Homo sapiens: one gene and its partners. The protein of the gene in region 2 purifies or fractionates together with the protein of the main gene of each other region. This does not show direct contact. Each region holds a gene or a part of one and is shown on either strand. Other genes may lie near its edges.

Region 1 (4,205 bases), on a different chromosome or scaffold from region 2:
ACTGTTGGTCATATATCTTAGTGTCTATGGTCACTAAATGATGTTGATTGAAGTTTATCTACTCTACTTCAGACACAGTTGAGAATACCTGTCTTCCTTGGAACACTAGGAAGAACGATCAGGAGGCTACACAGCAATCAGTATAATTTGCCAGGTAAAAAGATAACAAGTAATGATTCTTACAACCTGTTCCTTCCATAGTAAAATAATCTCACTTTTCCTCGTTACGTGAAAGAATGTTAATGGCTATGATGAGCACAAGACAAGGCAGGATCTCTTGCAGCCAAAAGAACAGAGAACGTAAAAAACCAAGCTCCTATTTCACAGATCAGGACAAAAAAATAAATAAACAAATCCATCAGTGTAGTTGTCTTCCTACTCAGCTTCATTTAGCTTCCTGAAACGGTCAGCTTTAGGGGAACCTCCGAGAGTTGTTGATTTCCATGCCTAGCCAGGCTTGTTGACTTGGGGAAAGCCACAAACCAAAAAGCCAAATGTAAGCACTTGTACAAAATGAGGGCTTACTTCTAGTACTGGTAGTTTTCTCTGGCACTAAATAAGAGAGAGAAACCCACGTCTGATTCCTTTCAACACATGGTCTGAAGCCTCCCTTTACCAAGGTCTTATCCTAAAGTAGGTAGACTTGAGACACACTGACCCGCCAGATGAGACAAAGTTGCAAATCTCAGGTAGTTGTCACCTCCACTCTGCGGCACCCAACTGCTGCCATAAATTTCCATCATGGGCCCTGTCCAAAAAGGAGCTTATTCTAGGGAGAATATAACCAGCCACGGCTCAAGAGGACAAAGCCTCAAATTTCTCAAGACCAAGAAGCACAAGATGGACTCACTTTCTGCCTGCAGAGAGGCTCCTTCTTGTTCTCTTCGGCCTTTGCATCCTGCTGCGCAGCATCTTTGGGTGTGTTTACTGCTAAAACATCATTGATGGTGGAGCCAACCACCATGATCTTGGCCCCACTGGTCACTTTTATTTCTCTCAATGTTTTATCCTCGGGGACGAGTCCCTTATACATGACTTTCTGCATGGCAGGCGGGAGACCTTGGGAAAAGGTAGAAGGTGGACAGTGAAAGGAAGGAAGGACAGAAAAATGTATGGATACTACACAGCTCTTTGGTAACAGACCAAAAAGTGAATACTGCCTCCACCACCTATTAGCTTTGTGAACTTGGGAGATTTACAACCTCTGAACCTCAGTTTCTAGAACTGTAGAAGATTTATTAGAGTAAGTCCTTCTGTACAGACCTGTTTCAAGGATTAAGAGACCAATGCGGGGCATTTAGTACGGTGGCTAGCATTGAATAATTGTTCAGTAAGTACTAGCTCTCATTCTTTCCAAGTTGTTCCTCAGTCATCTAAATCATTCACATATTAAGTGAGAATCCACAGGCATCAGAGCTACAGAAGCCAATAGGGACAAAACTCCTGTTCTTAATGGAGATTACAAGGCTACATGTAGAAAGCTTTAAAAAAAAAAAAAAGTTCAAGGCCAGGAGTGATGGCTTATGCCTGTAATCCCAGCACTTCGGGAGGCCGAGGTGGGTGGATAAAATAAAAAAAACTAGCCCGGCGGGGTAGCGGGCACCTGTAATCCCAGCTACTCGGGAGGCTGAGGCAGGAGAATCGCTTGAACCTGGGAGGCGGAGGCTGCAGTGAGCCAAGATGGTGCCAGTACACTCCAGCCTGGGCAACAGAGCAAGACTCCGTCTCAAAAAAAAAAAAAAATAGGAAAAAGAAAAGAAATCTCAGATGGCAAAGAGCTATGAACAAGGTAAAATTAAGAAACAGAATCGACTGTGAAGAACCAGCATCAAAGTCAATAGCAGCGTTTCCTAAACTTCACTTAGAAGAATTACCTAAGATATTTGCTAAAAATAAATTCCTGGCTACATCCCAGACCCACTGAATCAGAATCTCCTGGGAAAGGGCCCAGAAGCTGTAAAACAAGCGCCTTAGGTGATTTTTTAATTAGAGATGTTAGAGCAACATCAATGAGAAACTGGGGCCTAAACGTCAGACTTCGGCTTTAATCCCAGCTCTGCAACTTACTAGCTCTATAAACTTGAGTCTCTTTCCCCAGCTGAGTAATGGGCATCCAAGTATCCTTCAGAAGACTGCTGTAAGGATGGGGGGACCTGATGCAAGGAAAGCCACCAGGTGCCTAGTAGGGTGCAAGGGCCATCAGGAGGCGGGGTGGGGAAGACTGGCTGTCAGCGCCACAGGAATTACCTGTAATCGAGTGGATCTTCTGTTTCAGCTCGGAGCCTGTGCTGTCCAGGGGGAACTTCACGTCATGCTTGGTCTTATTCCAGATGATCTTCAAGTCCACCAGCTCCCTGCCCGCGCCGCCGCCCGCGTCTTCGCCGTTGCTGACCGAGGCCTGGGCTGCGGGGTCCCCAGGGGGCTGGGCCGGGGCCGGCTGCAGGCTGCCTCGTGCGGCGCCGGAGTCCTCGGCCGCCGCCCCCGCCGCGGCTTCAGCCTCCAGGCAGTTGACGGGCCGCGCGGGAGCCTCAGTAGCCACAGTCTCGGCCTCCGTGTCCATGCCAGGTTCCTCCATGCCTGCAAGGGGGTTAGGGGGTGGGCGCTCGCCGCGGGCTGGGCTTGGGAACGGACGCTGTCCGGGCGCCGCCGGACCTCCGTTCCCGAGCCGCGGTTCTCCCTCCCGGGCCGGGCCGCATCCCCCAGAGGAGCGACCGCAACCTCAGCCCCGGCCCGGCGCCCGCCACCCCCGCCGCACTCACCATCCGGGGCCCCGGCCGCCGCCATGATGATTGTGTACAACACCCACCGCTCCCGCAGAGGCCGCTGGGAAGAGGCGAGCTGGCTGAGATTGGCCCCCGCAGCAGCCCCTAATCTCTCACAGCCCGGCCGGAAACAGGTGGAGGTTTCTATGGAGACCCGCCTCCTCCGCTCCCAGGTCCGGCCCCTGCCACGCTTTCGCTTTCCCAAGCTGAAGGGGGCGGGTCCGGGAAATAGCCCTTTCTCTGGCCTCTGCCCCCTGGTGGCGAGTGCGGCCGCAGCCGTCCAGGGGGGCGTGGGATTTCGCGCTAGGGGGCCTGTGACTTTAAGGGGCAAGGCTGCGCTGGCTGTGGCGGAGGCCGATTGGCTGGAAGCAGTCCCCGGAAGTGACGCAGGGAGAAGCCCACGTGTGCTATTCCATCCCACATGGCGGCGCTCCTGAGGAGACTGCTGCAGCGCGAGAGGCCTTCGGCGGCCTCTGGCCGCCCCGTAGGACGGCGCGAGGCCAACCTGGGCACTGATGCCGGGGTTGCGGTGCGAGTGCGGTTCGCTCCCAGCCCCACAGGTAACCCTGGCGGACGTGACGCTACAGGCCGAGGCCCCCTGTCCCGTCTCCGCCCCACGAATGTTCCCGAATGAATCCTTTCCGGTGGTGTCAGAGTGGGCGGGCGGAGGAGGGTTAAGGCAGCGCGAGCCCATTTTACAGAGGCGGAAACTGAGGTGCAGGAGCGGAAATAATTCAAATTGCCAGGAGTTTCTTGTGTTTTTTGTGCCATCCCATCTCTTTCGATCTTTTTTTCATGCATTCCATACATGTGCATTGATGACAACCTGTGTAACAGGTGTTGTAGACGCTGGGATACAGTGATCATTGAGAAAGGTAGGGGCCTTGCTCTGTGGAAGTCTGCATTCTAGTGGCTGCCGCAGACACTTATAAAAAATAAGTGTAATTTTAGAGTCACATGTGCCATGCGGGAAGTGAAACAGGATAGGAGACTGGGGATTAAGAAGGACGCTCCAGAAGGCTTTACTGAGCAGGTAACATTTGAGCTGAGATCCAAATGACAAGAAGGAGCACGCTATGTGAAGCCTATAGAAGGAACCTTCTGGAGGCCAGGCGCGGTGGCTCACGCTTGTAATCCCAGCACTTTGGGAGGCAGAGGTGGGTGCATCACTTGAGGTCAAGTGGATCACTTGAGAGCCGTCTGACCAACATGGTGAAGCCCTGTCTCTACTAAAAATACAAAATTATCTGGGCATGGTGGCGCATGCCTGTAATCCCAGCTACTTGGGAGGCTGAGGCAGGAGAATCGCTTGAACGCAGGAGGTGGAGATTGCGGTGAGCCAAGATCGCGCCATTGCACTCCAGCCTGGGCAACAAGAGCGAAACTGTGTCTCAAAAACAAAAAAGAAGGAACCTTCTGGGTAGAGGAAATCGCAGGTACCAA
Region 2 (4,300 bases):
TCACATGTTGTGGAATGAACTGTATGGTCTCTTACAGCCATAAAACATCCAAGTCTCTAGGATTATGCTGTTAGGTTCCAAAGAATATAGTGTACAGTAGTCATGAGAAATATCATGACTTTCTGAGATTATACACACATATGCATATATATGTATGTGTGTATATATATCTCTCTCTTCTCATATAGACATAAATCGGTATCAGAAGGTATATACGATACACAGTGTGTGCATATTTATGTATCTATCCCCTTCCTTTATCTACCTCTAAGCTAGGAGAGGCATCAGGCTGAAGAAGTCAAAGTATAACTACTAAAATGAGATAATATAGAAGAGAAAATATTTTTAAAGAATTAAAAATATAAAGCTATATAAATGCAAAAATATAACTAATGCTTAAGAATTATTAGACTAGTTGGCGGAAAAATTTCTTCTGAAGAGGGAGTAGAGTAATGCTATTGTTATTTTAAACCTCACCAAAAAAAAGTGAACTATACATAATCTCCTATACCAAGCAAAACACTGCAAAAGCTACAGGTGACCAGAATTATATAACGCCTTTTGAGAATGTACAAGCGTTTTCAGGTACATACATTTCATTAATTTCTAGAATGTTTTTAAGAGTTGCCAGACCAAGGCCCTGAAATTTTCAAATATAAAAATCCTATCTTGGAAGGCGGGGACTCTTACAGAGCTGGGGCCTAGTTTAGAATAGCATTATCTTAGATAAGAGCCCAGCCTCCCTCCAAGCCGTAACAGGAAATGCTTCATAAAGAAGTCTGCATCCTTAGTCCCAGACCTCCGCAGTTAGTATTTGGATTCTAGCCTTTATAAATGGACTTCTCAAAGGTGCATCCAACATCTGAGTATTCTGGCAGCAGTAACGTAAAAGGACTGACAAGGAAGGCTGCAGAGAGGTGTCAGACACGAAAACGCTTGAAGACATAAAAATGAGGAGTCTTAAGCACCTAAGAACTGCAATTCCCTATCTGAGCAGCAGGTAAGATTCTGGGGTATCAGATCACTGTATCCAGTTCCAGGTTCTCCACTGGCAGAGAGTGCAGTCTCTGACTTTGTCCTCTGAATGCAGGAACTTTATCGAAGCTAAAGTACCTGCTTTGGACACTTCTGGCACAGGTGTTGGGGTGACAGGAAACATCATCAATTCAGCTGCCAACTACAGCGGAAAAAAACTAGGGAATAATCCTCAGAAAATGGCACTGTTAATGGGTACAAAAAACACAGATAATAGGAATAAGCTCTAGTGTTCAGTAGCACAATAGCGTGACTATAGTTAACAATAATTTATTGTATATTTCAAAATAACTACAAAAATGAATTTGGAACAAAGAAATAAATGATAAATGTTTCAGGTAATGGATATTCCAATTACCCTGATTTGATCACTACACTGTATGCTTGAATCAAAATATCACGTCTCCTATAAATATGTACAACTATTATGTGCCCATAAAAACTAAAAACAAAAAAGAAAGAAAATGACACTTAAATATTAAAATACCTTTTATCCCCGAATCCCACATTTCAGTTTGGTCTTCTGAAAAAATGACTTATCAGTTTCTCAGCTAAAGAAATGATATCGACAGTGTACTACCTAAATTATACCTTATATTCTTTCCTTTCCAAAATATAAATTCGCCAGTGAACAATCTGATCCTAAAGAGGGCGGAAGATTAACCCGCCTAGCATGAGAGCACAGCTTAAAATAAATGCTGTTAAGTAGTCCTCAGGTAGAACAACTTTCCCAGCCAGCAGGCCCAGGAACTCAAGGTCTAGCTTAAGTTGGGTATTTGTATTCAAGAAGGAATTACAATCATGGAGTCAAATGACTTTTTCAATGCAGACGACAAAACGTAATCAAGTCAGTAGACACTTTACTAAGAGGAGGCTAAGCAAATGGTTATTTGCTTAAGGTTAGGGAACTCTTAAGCCCAAGGACCTGAGAGCCTGGGAAGGCGGGGGGGAATGGGTTTGACTCCCAAAGTTTGCGTTTCCGCAAGTGGTTAACACAACTCTAGGAACAAACCCTAAGACCAATACTCCCCACAATCTCATTTCCCCCCATTCTGCATCACCCATCACCCCAAAATAAAAACAGCTACTACAGCACAGCCCTTTGGTTACGCAGGAGGCTGGGACCTGATCCTGGCATAAAAAGCGGATGCGGGCGACCGAGGACCACACACGTGGGGGCGTTCGCGGGCGCTGAAACCAGCTACGAGGCCCACGCCCCCGCCGGGGACAGCTGGTGACCATCACCTTTGGACAGGGGCATTCCCCAGCCGGCCCCGGAACTTGCGAAAGACGCGCAGCCCTTCGGACTCAGCCACTCGCGCAGGGCCCGGGTCCCGGGCGGCTCGGGGCACCTGAGGAGCGCGGCGAAGGCGGGGACAGGGACGGGGACGGGGACGACTCGGGAACAGGGAAGCGCGCGGCCTCCCGCAGGACCCACCTGGATCTGCAACGGCACGAGGCGCACCTTGCAGCGCTCGCTCACCGCGAAGCCCTTGGGCAAGTCCACGTACTGGCCCCACTCCTCGGCGAACAGCTGCACCACGAATTTGCGGTGCATGTCGATCTGGTCGCCGTACAGGCTGAGGAACTTCTGGATGAGCAGCTCGTAGCCCGCCCCGTGTGGCACCGACGAGGGTCGCGCGAAGACTGAGAAACAGAAGAGCACCGGGACTGTGCCCGACGGCGCCCCCGCGCCCCCGGCGCCGCTGTTGGGGAGCGCAAGGACCGCCGGCTCCGCAGCCGCCATGTTCCCCCGAGCGTCTGCGAGCTCCGAGGCCGCCCAGTCGCACCCAGCCGGCTGCCGCGGCCCCGCCTCCCGGCGATGCCAGCCCGCCCGCCAGCTCGCGGAGGCGAAGGGGCGTGTCCTGACGACCGCTGCTCGCGCGCTCTCTTACCCGCCCCGGAGGGCGGGCCGCGGCGTAAGGGTGGGTGGTGGGGCCGGGGTGCGCGCGTGAGCCAGGGAGCGCCTGCGCTCGCCGGCCGGGTCCGCCCCCTCCAGCTTCCCGGGCCGCTGCGTTCCCGCAGTTCCCCGCTCGCGCCCTTTCTGCCGCGGTTCTGACTGCCGGCAGAACGCCTAGTGGTCTCGCAGACCCAAGACCCGCCTGGGCTGCCCGTTGTTCTTGCCCCGGTGCTGCAGCTCACACAAGGGTTTGTACCACCCTTCCCCTAACGCTGGCCCTCTTCGCGGCTTCGCTCGCCTTCGAATGAGCAGTGTTCTTGGCAGTCTAGGGTTGTGGTTGGGTACACAGAGCCGCCAGGACGAGTTACCTGTTGGCTCTGTGCAGAAGCATGCAGTCCTCCTCGAGATGGCAGTGGTATCTTACAACCAAAGGGACAGTCCGATAGATACCCTAAGAAGAGCAGCAGAATTTAATCCTTAGAGGGCCAGTCAAGGTTCAAGTTTTGTCTTTTTTCGGTCCCACAGAACACAATATCTCTAGGAATGGATTTGATATCTGGCCTCCCTTCATCTCAACCTATTTCTGGGAGGACTTGGATTTGGGAATATAAATACTATTAAAAGCAAAAATCTGAACTTTATATTGAAACTAAGGATATCTGTTTTTAAGTAAGTAAAAGGGATCACTTTCAAATAAAACAATCCTCTGCCTTCTGCACACTGTAAGGCGCTATAATTAACTGGAATTAGAAAGCATGCATTATGAACAGAATTTCCTTGGAATTGAGTCCTGCGAAGATAGGCATGGGCCTAAACATAAAATTAGATTTTAGGTATTAAAGCTGTCCTCTTCTAAGAAAATAACCTTTAAAGCAGGGTTTCCCAACTGACACTGTTGACTTCTGGAATGGACATTTCTCTTTCTTGGGGATGGGGCATCTTGTGCATTTGCAGGATATTTAGCAGCATCACCGGCTTCTACTCCCGCTAGATGCCTAGTGACCGCTCCTCCCTCTAGTTATGGCAATCAAAAATGTTTCCAGACATTGCCAAATATTCCCCAGAGGGCAAATATACCCCCTACTTGAGAACCACACTGCTTTAAAGTTATGAAAAGACCATCCTTTGGTGTTTCTTGCTCAATTGTACCGAAGCTACTAGAAATAGCCATTTTTTTCTGGTTCTCATCACACTTTGAGAGATCCCATTTAAAAGTGTTGTCTGAACCCGTCAGACCCAAAATGATATTTTTTTCCGGATACCACTCCATTGCAAGGTCTTCTATATGCAGATATGCTGATTTGTGCTAATAAGTGTACCCCCTCAAGACCTGATTACCAAAAGGTACCTACCTATTTTGGGTGG
Region 3 (2,686 bases), on a different chromosome or scaffold from region 2:
TGTTTTAACTTTTACGTAATTTTATATTATTGTAGGAAAAACTGGAAAACAAAGAAGGGTCAGGAACTCCCAGAGAGGGGAATAGGCCACAGAACATTCTCTACTACTAATTAAGGGTTGGGCAAAAGGAAAAACATTTTCCAAACACCTGACCTTTAAGAGCGACTTTTCCTAGCCCTGTGGGCCTTAGAAAGTTTAATGGCCATCGAGACTCATTCCTTGGTGGAAACTAGCATAAACCCATTTGTTTTAGGTAAGAGCAACTTCACTGGCGCTGGAAAATAGTTTTGGATACACAGTGCACTTCATTCCAAGAGATCTTACTAGAGATCCCCGACAGTCAGAAGATTTCCCGCTTGATCAGATATTTCTCGACGTGTGTTATTGCTTTGCTTGTCACAGTTTTCTAGGAAACTGGTGTCAGGTAACACTCCTAGCTGCCTCCCATGAGGAGTTACCTCTAGAGCGCAGAGTTTTATCTGGCACTGAAAACTTGCTGGTTGGTTTTCTAGATCCATGTTTATTTTCAGTTCAAAGACAAAGTAGAAAACTTGAGAGTGGAAAATGTTACCTTTTAGTTCACACTCCTAATCCCTTAGTCCCCATAAAATAAACATTCTAAAGTGTAAGCAGTAGAAATAATGGAAACTCCACAGAAACAGAAATAAATTAGTTTCTTTCAGTCTTGGTGGAGGTCCTTTTGCCGAACACCATACTCCACTGTGAACAGAATTCATCTTGAACGAAGAAGAAATCTTTGGCCTATTTCACCATGTCTCCAGCATTGCATAACAGACATTTTTCAAATTCAGTTTCTTCTCCAACTGCAGCAAAAAGGCAAAGAGTAGTCTGTTTCAGGAGTCTGAAAAATAGAAAAAAAAACCATGTTTGAGTAGTTTAAGAATAGCTTTCTCCTCTGGTGTTAAACCGTTAACATGTTATAGCTCTAGAGTTTGAGGCCAAAAGAAAATTCAAGAGCAGAGTGATGGTTCGCTAGATAAGGCTGATCTGTGTTTGGAATATTTTACTTAGCAGACGTGGAGAAGCAGAGTCTGCACCACTCTATAAGAGCAGGCACAGCTACGCCATGCAGCATTCTAAACTTCCCAAGAGATTTACTTGGGGATACTGGCAGAATTCCCAGAACTTCCAAGTTTGGGATCTACAGTTTGCAGGATCCTGTGGAATGAGAATATTTAGGATTTAAAAAAATTTTTTTTTAATTTTTTGAGACAGAGTCTCACTTTGTCGCCCAGGCTGGAGTGTAGTGGCGAGATCTCGGCTCACTGCAACCTCCGTCTCCCGGGTTCAAGCAATCCTCCCGCCACAGCCTCCGGAGTAGCTGGGATTACAAGTGTGCACCACCATGCCCGGCTAATTTTTGTATTTTTAGTAAAGACGAGGTTTCACCACGTTGGCCAGGCTGGTCTTGAACTCCTGGGCTCAAGTGATCCGCCTGCCTTGTCCTCCCAAAGTGCTGGGATTACAGGTATGAACCACCACGCCCAGCCTTGTTTAGGATTTTAGATAAGGAATACTGTCACCTTGGATTTTTAGGTTTTATAGAGTAGGCACAGAAAGCAATGTTTGAAAAATGCATTTAGGACAACATGGAAGTTCATGGTCCTGGAACTTAGTATTAAAGCTTTGCTGCTTTCTCCCAAAGGCTATTAAGATTCATTGCCATTCTTGAATCCTGTAATCTCTTAGAAAGAGAAATAAACTACATTAAAAAAAAAAAAAAGAAACAAAACAACACTTAAGTCCCAGAAAATAATGTGTTCACCTCTCTAAAATGTAAATGCAATATGTTGCCTTTAATCTGAACTTACACATGGAAGGACTTATCTTTTAGGCCTAGAAAGTGCAAACTCTGCTGAAATCCTGCGAGTTGGCCTCCCACAGATCACTGAGAGGTCTGGAGCCAGATAAGGTGCTTGGTTAGTTTCTAGACAGAAGATATTGATGAAGAGAGGGAACGAGGAGCTTCAAATACTCCCCTAACATCTGGTTCAAGTCAGGGGAATAAACAGAAAACAGGAGTATTATAAGCACAACAAAGATGAACAAAAATAAAATATTTCAGGCCAGGCGCGGTGGCTCACGGGTGGATCACGAGGTCAGGAGATCAAGACCATCCTGTCTAACACGGTGAAACCCCGTGTCTATTAAAAAAATACAAAAAAATTAGCTGGGCGTGGTGGCAGGTGCCTGTAGTCCCAGCTACTCTGGAGGTTGAGGCAGGAGAATGGCGTGAACCCGGGAGGCGGAGCTTGCAGTGAGCCGAGATCGTGCCACTGCACTTCAGCCTGGGTGACAGAGCGAGACTGCGTCTCAAAAAAAAAAAAAAAAAGAAAAGAAAGAAAATATTTCTTTCTTTTCTTTTTTTTTAAAGGAAGATGCCAGATGGCTGTTTTTACATTTATTTAAACAGAAAATGTGCACACGAGCTGTCTACTCATTTTCTTCGCTGCACAGCCTGGCACTGGGGTTGGTGACTGTGATGGCCAGTTGGGCAGCTCTTTCCACGATGGCTTTGCGGTTCTTGGAGGAAACATTGTGAGCGATCTCGGCACAAGTACGATTGTTGCACATCAGCAGCACTTCCAGCTCCTTGACGTTGTGGACCAGGAACTTCCGGAAGCCACTGGGCAGCATGTGCTTTGTTTTTTTGTTGCTCCCATAA
Region 4 (3,500 bases), on a different chromosome or scaffold from region 2:
TGGATTTGTCTCCTAGGTCTGGCTTTAGACTCTTGGGACCTAGACTTCTACACCAAGCGCTTCCAGGAGCTACAGCGGAACCCGAGCACTGTGGAGGCCTTTGACTTGGCGCAGTCCAATAGGTGAGGAGAAATGGGGTTGTTCCCATACCTGAGCCCATGGGTGTTGGGAGAGACCACAGGGGCTCACCTTCATGTTCCTCCCTTGGCTTAGGGGCCTCCCTGAGTCTCTGAGGGCCTGGGCTCCCGTCATCCATCAAGGAGTCTACATTCAAATCTTGGTTTTATCTTCACTTTGGCTCTGGATAGTCCAAAATGACAGAATACTTGAAGATTATGACTTTTTGGAATATATTTTGATCTGTCATCTAAGTATGAATTTGGCTGTAACTCTGCTGTTAAATGCTGGTGAGAAGACATGGCATTAAGAAATGACCCCGTTTCCACCTGCCTTCCCCTCCCTGCATCGCCCCCTGCAGCGAGCACAGCCGACACTGGTTCTTCAAGGGCCAGCTCCACGTGGATGGGCAGAAGCTGGTGCACTCACTGTTTGAGTCCATCATGAGCACCCAGGAATCCTCGAACCCCAACAACGTCCTCAAATTCTGTGATAACAGCAGGTGCTGTGCCCTAGACTGGGTTGGCGTCAGGACCCGGGGAGGGGAGGCCCCAGGCCCTGGTTGGGTTAGTGTAGGTCCCAGAAAGGAAGCAAGGTCCATGACGGGTATGTCCACAGTGCAATCCAGGGAAAGGAAGTCCGATTCCTACGGCCTGAGGACCCCACACGGCCAAGCCGCTTCCAGCAACAGCAAGGGCTGAGACATGTTGTCTTCACAGCAGAGACTCACAACTTTCCCACAGGTGAGCTGGGTTCCCTGGAGAAATAGGTGAGATCACAGAATAGGGTAGGGCAAAGGTCCCAGGCCCCTGGAGTGGGCCTGGGGAAAATAATCAGGGAAATTGGTTGTCCTTATTTTCAGTGGGGGTGGTCAGAGATGGGGGTTTGTCTCTGAGGCACCCAGACCTCTCCCCACTCTCTCTTTGCAGGAGTATGCCCCTTTAGTGGTGCAACCACTGGCACAGGGGGCCGGATTCGAGATGTCCAGTGCACAGGCCGCGGGGCCCACGTGGTGGCTGGCACTGCCGGCTATTGCTTTGGAAATCTGCATATTCCAGGTTCCATCTCCTTCCTCTCTATCCACCTTCCCTTCCAGATTCCTTGTCCTGGCAGGCAGCAAACTTCTATCTGTTAGGTCCATAGGGTTATCCTGTGTGCCTTTTCTCAGGAGGAAGGGCTCTAGGATAGCTGGCCTTTCACTAACTATGGTCATAAGTGTAGACCTGGGGAGATGAGGTGGCCAGACTGCTTTTGCAGGTCTACGATTTTCTTTAAAAACTAGCCTTCATTCAGCCAGAAAGCATGATATTGGGTTGGTCTTATGATCAGTACCTGCCCCTCAAATCTGGTTTCTTAGCCTGAGAAACTTGGCTGGGCGTGGTGGCTCACGCCTGTAATCCCAGCACTTTGGGAGGCTGAGGTGGGCGGATCACAAGGTCAGGAGATCAAAACCATCCTGGCTAACACGGTGAAACCCCGTCTCTACTAAAAATACAAAAAATTAGCTGGGCGTGGTGGCGGGCGCCTATAGTCCCAGCTACTCAGGAGGCTGAGGCGAGAGAATGGCGTGAACCCGGGAGGCGGAGCTTTCAGTGAGCCAAGATCACGCCACTGCACGCTAGCCTGGGTGATAGAGCGAGACTCCATCTCAAAAAAAAAAACAGAAAGCCTGTGTAACTCTGATTGCGAGATTCAGAGGGAAGGCTGGTGTGGGTGGTGGAAAGAAGACCAGTGCCTCACTGCAGGCTCTAGGGCTTCCTAAAGCAGGACTTCCTGAAGTGGAACATTGCAACCATGCAGGTGGTCCTTGGTGGCCTTGACTCTTCCTGAAGGATGCAGGCTGCTCCGGCCTGTCTTCACAGTTCATTCAGTTCATCCAGTTCTCTCTCCTTCCCTCCCAGGTTACAATCTGCCCTGGGAGGATCCAAGCTTCCAGTATCCTGGGAATTTTGCCCGGCCCCTGGAGGTTGCCATTGAAGCCAGTAATGGAGCTTCTGACTATGGCAACAAGTTTGGGGAACCAGTGCTGGCTGGTGAGGCTGGGGTGTGGAGGGATGACAAACACCCAGAGGGGCTTGTGGGTGGGGTGTGCGACCCAGGGGCTGTGCTATTGGGCGAGCACTGGGGGAACTGAGTGACAGGTCCCTCTGATGTTCACACTCCAGGCTTCGCCCGCTCCTTGGGCCTCCAGCTCCCAGACGGCCAGCGGCGTGAGTGGATCAAGCCCATCATGTTTAGTGGGGGCATTGGGTCCATGGAAGCTGACCACATAAGCAAGGAGGCCCCAGAGCCAGGTAAGAGCCTGCCACCTTTCTCTGGATCCAGCCAGCTTTCTCCCCAGCACAGGATGGCTACAGGGAGGGAACTTAGGGAACACTTCAGTGGTTAGTTTTTAATATGTTGGCTTATCTTATGTGTCACATAATGATGGACAACTCATTCTGAGAAATGTGGCTATTAGGTAATTTCATTATTGTGCCCACTTCATAGACTGTACATACACAAACCTAGATGGCATAGCCTGCTACACGATCCACACAGCCTCTTACTGGCAATATTATCCAGGAATTTTGTACACTTGGGAGCCATGATGAACAAAACAGCATGAGAATAAAATAAGCACAAGAGAAAATAATGCAATCAAGACGTGGTGGGCCAGGCAGGGTGGCTCGCACCTGTAATCTCAGCACTTTGGGAGACTGAGACAGGTGGATCACCTGAGATCAGGAGTTCAAGACCAGCCTGACCAACATGCTGAAACCCTGTTGCTACTAAAAACACAAAAATTAGCCAGGCATCTGCCGGGCATGGTGGCTCATGCCTGTAATCCCAACACTTTGGGAGGCTGAGGTGGGCAGATCACGAGGTCAGGAGATCGAGACCATCCTGGCTAACACGGTGAAACCCCGTCTCTACTAAAAAAATAAAAAAATTAGCCAGGTGTGGTGGCGGGCACCTGTAGTCCCAGCTACTCGGAGGCTGAGGCAGGAGAATGACGTGAACCCAGGAGGTGGAGCTTGCAGTGAGCTGAGATCCCACCACTGCACTCCAGCCTGGGCGACAGATGGAGACTCCATCTCAAAAAAAAAAAAAAAAAAATTACCCAGGCGTCATGGTGCATGCCTATAGTCCCAGCCTCCTGAGGCACAAGAACCACTTGAAGCTGGGAGGTGGAGGTTGCAGTGAGTGGAGATCGCACCACTGCGATCGCACCACTGTCAAAAAAAAAAAAAAAGACGTGGTAAATATGAGATAATATGAAGCTACTGTCAATGTAACATGGCATACCGTTTTTAGGTAAACTTTTTTTTCTCTTTTTTGTTAATTATTATTATTTTTAATCTGCATTTTCTTTCTCAAGTCAGATTTTTTTTCTCTTTTTA

Evidence for each region. Proteins that work in one complex are often made in the same cells at the same time.
Region 1: the proteins of ISOC1 (region 2) and UBFD1 fractionate together in Homo sapiens (co-fractionation; one large-scale study listed by BioGRID). This does not show direct contact.
Region 3: the proteins of ISOC1 (region 2) and MTHFD1L fractionate together in Homo sapiens (co-fractionation; one large-scale study listed by BioGRID). This does not show direct contact.
Region 4: the proteins of ISOC1 (region 2) and PFAS fractionate together in Homo sapiens (co-fractionation; one large-scale study listed by BioGRID). This does not show direct contact.

Annotation. Positions count from the first base shown.
Region 1 is NC_000016.10:23,556,322-23,560,526, reverse strand, and holds the start of UBFD1 (ubiquitin domain-containing protein UBFD1), read right to left. Parts: upstream 2,801-4,205; 5' UTR 2,785-2,800; coding exon 2,760-2,784; intron 2,578-2,759; coding exon 2,248-2,577; intron 1,060-2,247; coding exon 851-1,059; intron 749-850; exon of another isoform or gene 659-748; intron 1-658. Other genes in the region: EARS2 (nondiscriminating glutamyl-tRNA synthetase EARS2, mitochondrial), read left to right, coding at 3,184-3,322. UniProt on the Homo sapiens protein: May play a role as NF-kappa-B regulator.
Region 2 is NC_000005.10:129,093,249-129,097,548, reverse strand, and holds the start of ISOC1 (isochorismatase domain-containing protein 1), read right to left. Parts: upstream 2,801-4,300; 5' UTR 2,783-2,800; coding exon 2,474-2,782; exon of another isoform or gene 2,150-2,473; intron 1,001-2,149; exon of another isoform or gene 770-1,000; intron 1-769.
Region 3 is NC_000006.12:151,099,702-151,102,387, reverse strand, and holds the end of MTHFD1L (monofunctional C1-tetrahydrofolate synthase, mitochondrial isoform 2 precursor), read right to left. Parts: exon of another isoform or gene 2,393-2,686; intron 863-2,392; 3' UTR 501-862; downstream 1-500. UniProt on the Homo sapiens protein: May provide the missing metabolic reaction required to link the mitochondria and the cytoplasm in the mammalian model of one-carbon folate metabolism complementing thus the enzymatic activities of MTHFD2.
Region 4 is NC_000017.11:8,255,789-8,259,288, forward strand, and holds part of PFAS (phosphoribosylformylglycinamidine synthase), read left to right. Parts: intron 1-16; coding exon 17-122; intron 123-478; coding exon 479-619; intron 620-735; coding exon 736-860; intron 861-1,046; coding exon 1,047-1,175; intron 1,176-2,018; coding exon 2,019-2,150; intron 2,151-2,282; coding exon 2,283-2,411; intron 2,412-3,500. UniProt on the Homo sapiens protein: Phosphoribosylformylglycinamidine synthase involved in the purines biosynthetic pathway. Catalyzes the ATP-dependent conversion of formylglycinamide ribonucleotide (FGAR) and glutamine to yield formylglycinamidine ribonucleotide (FGAM) and glutamate.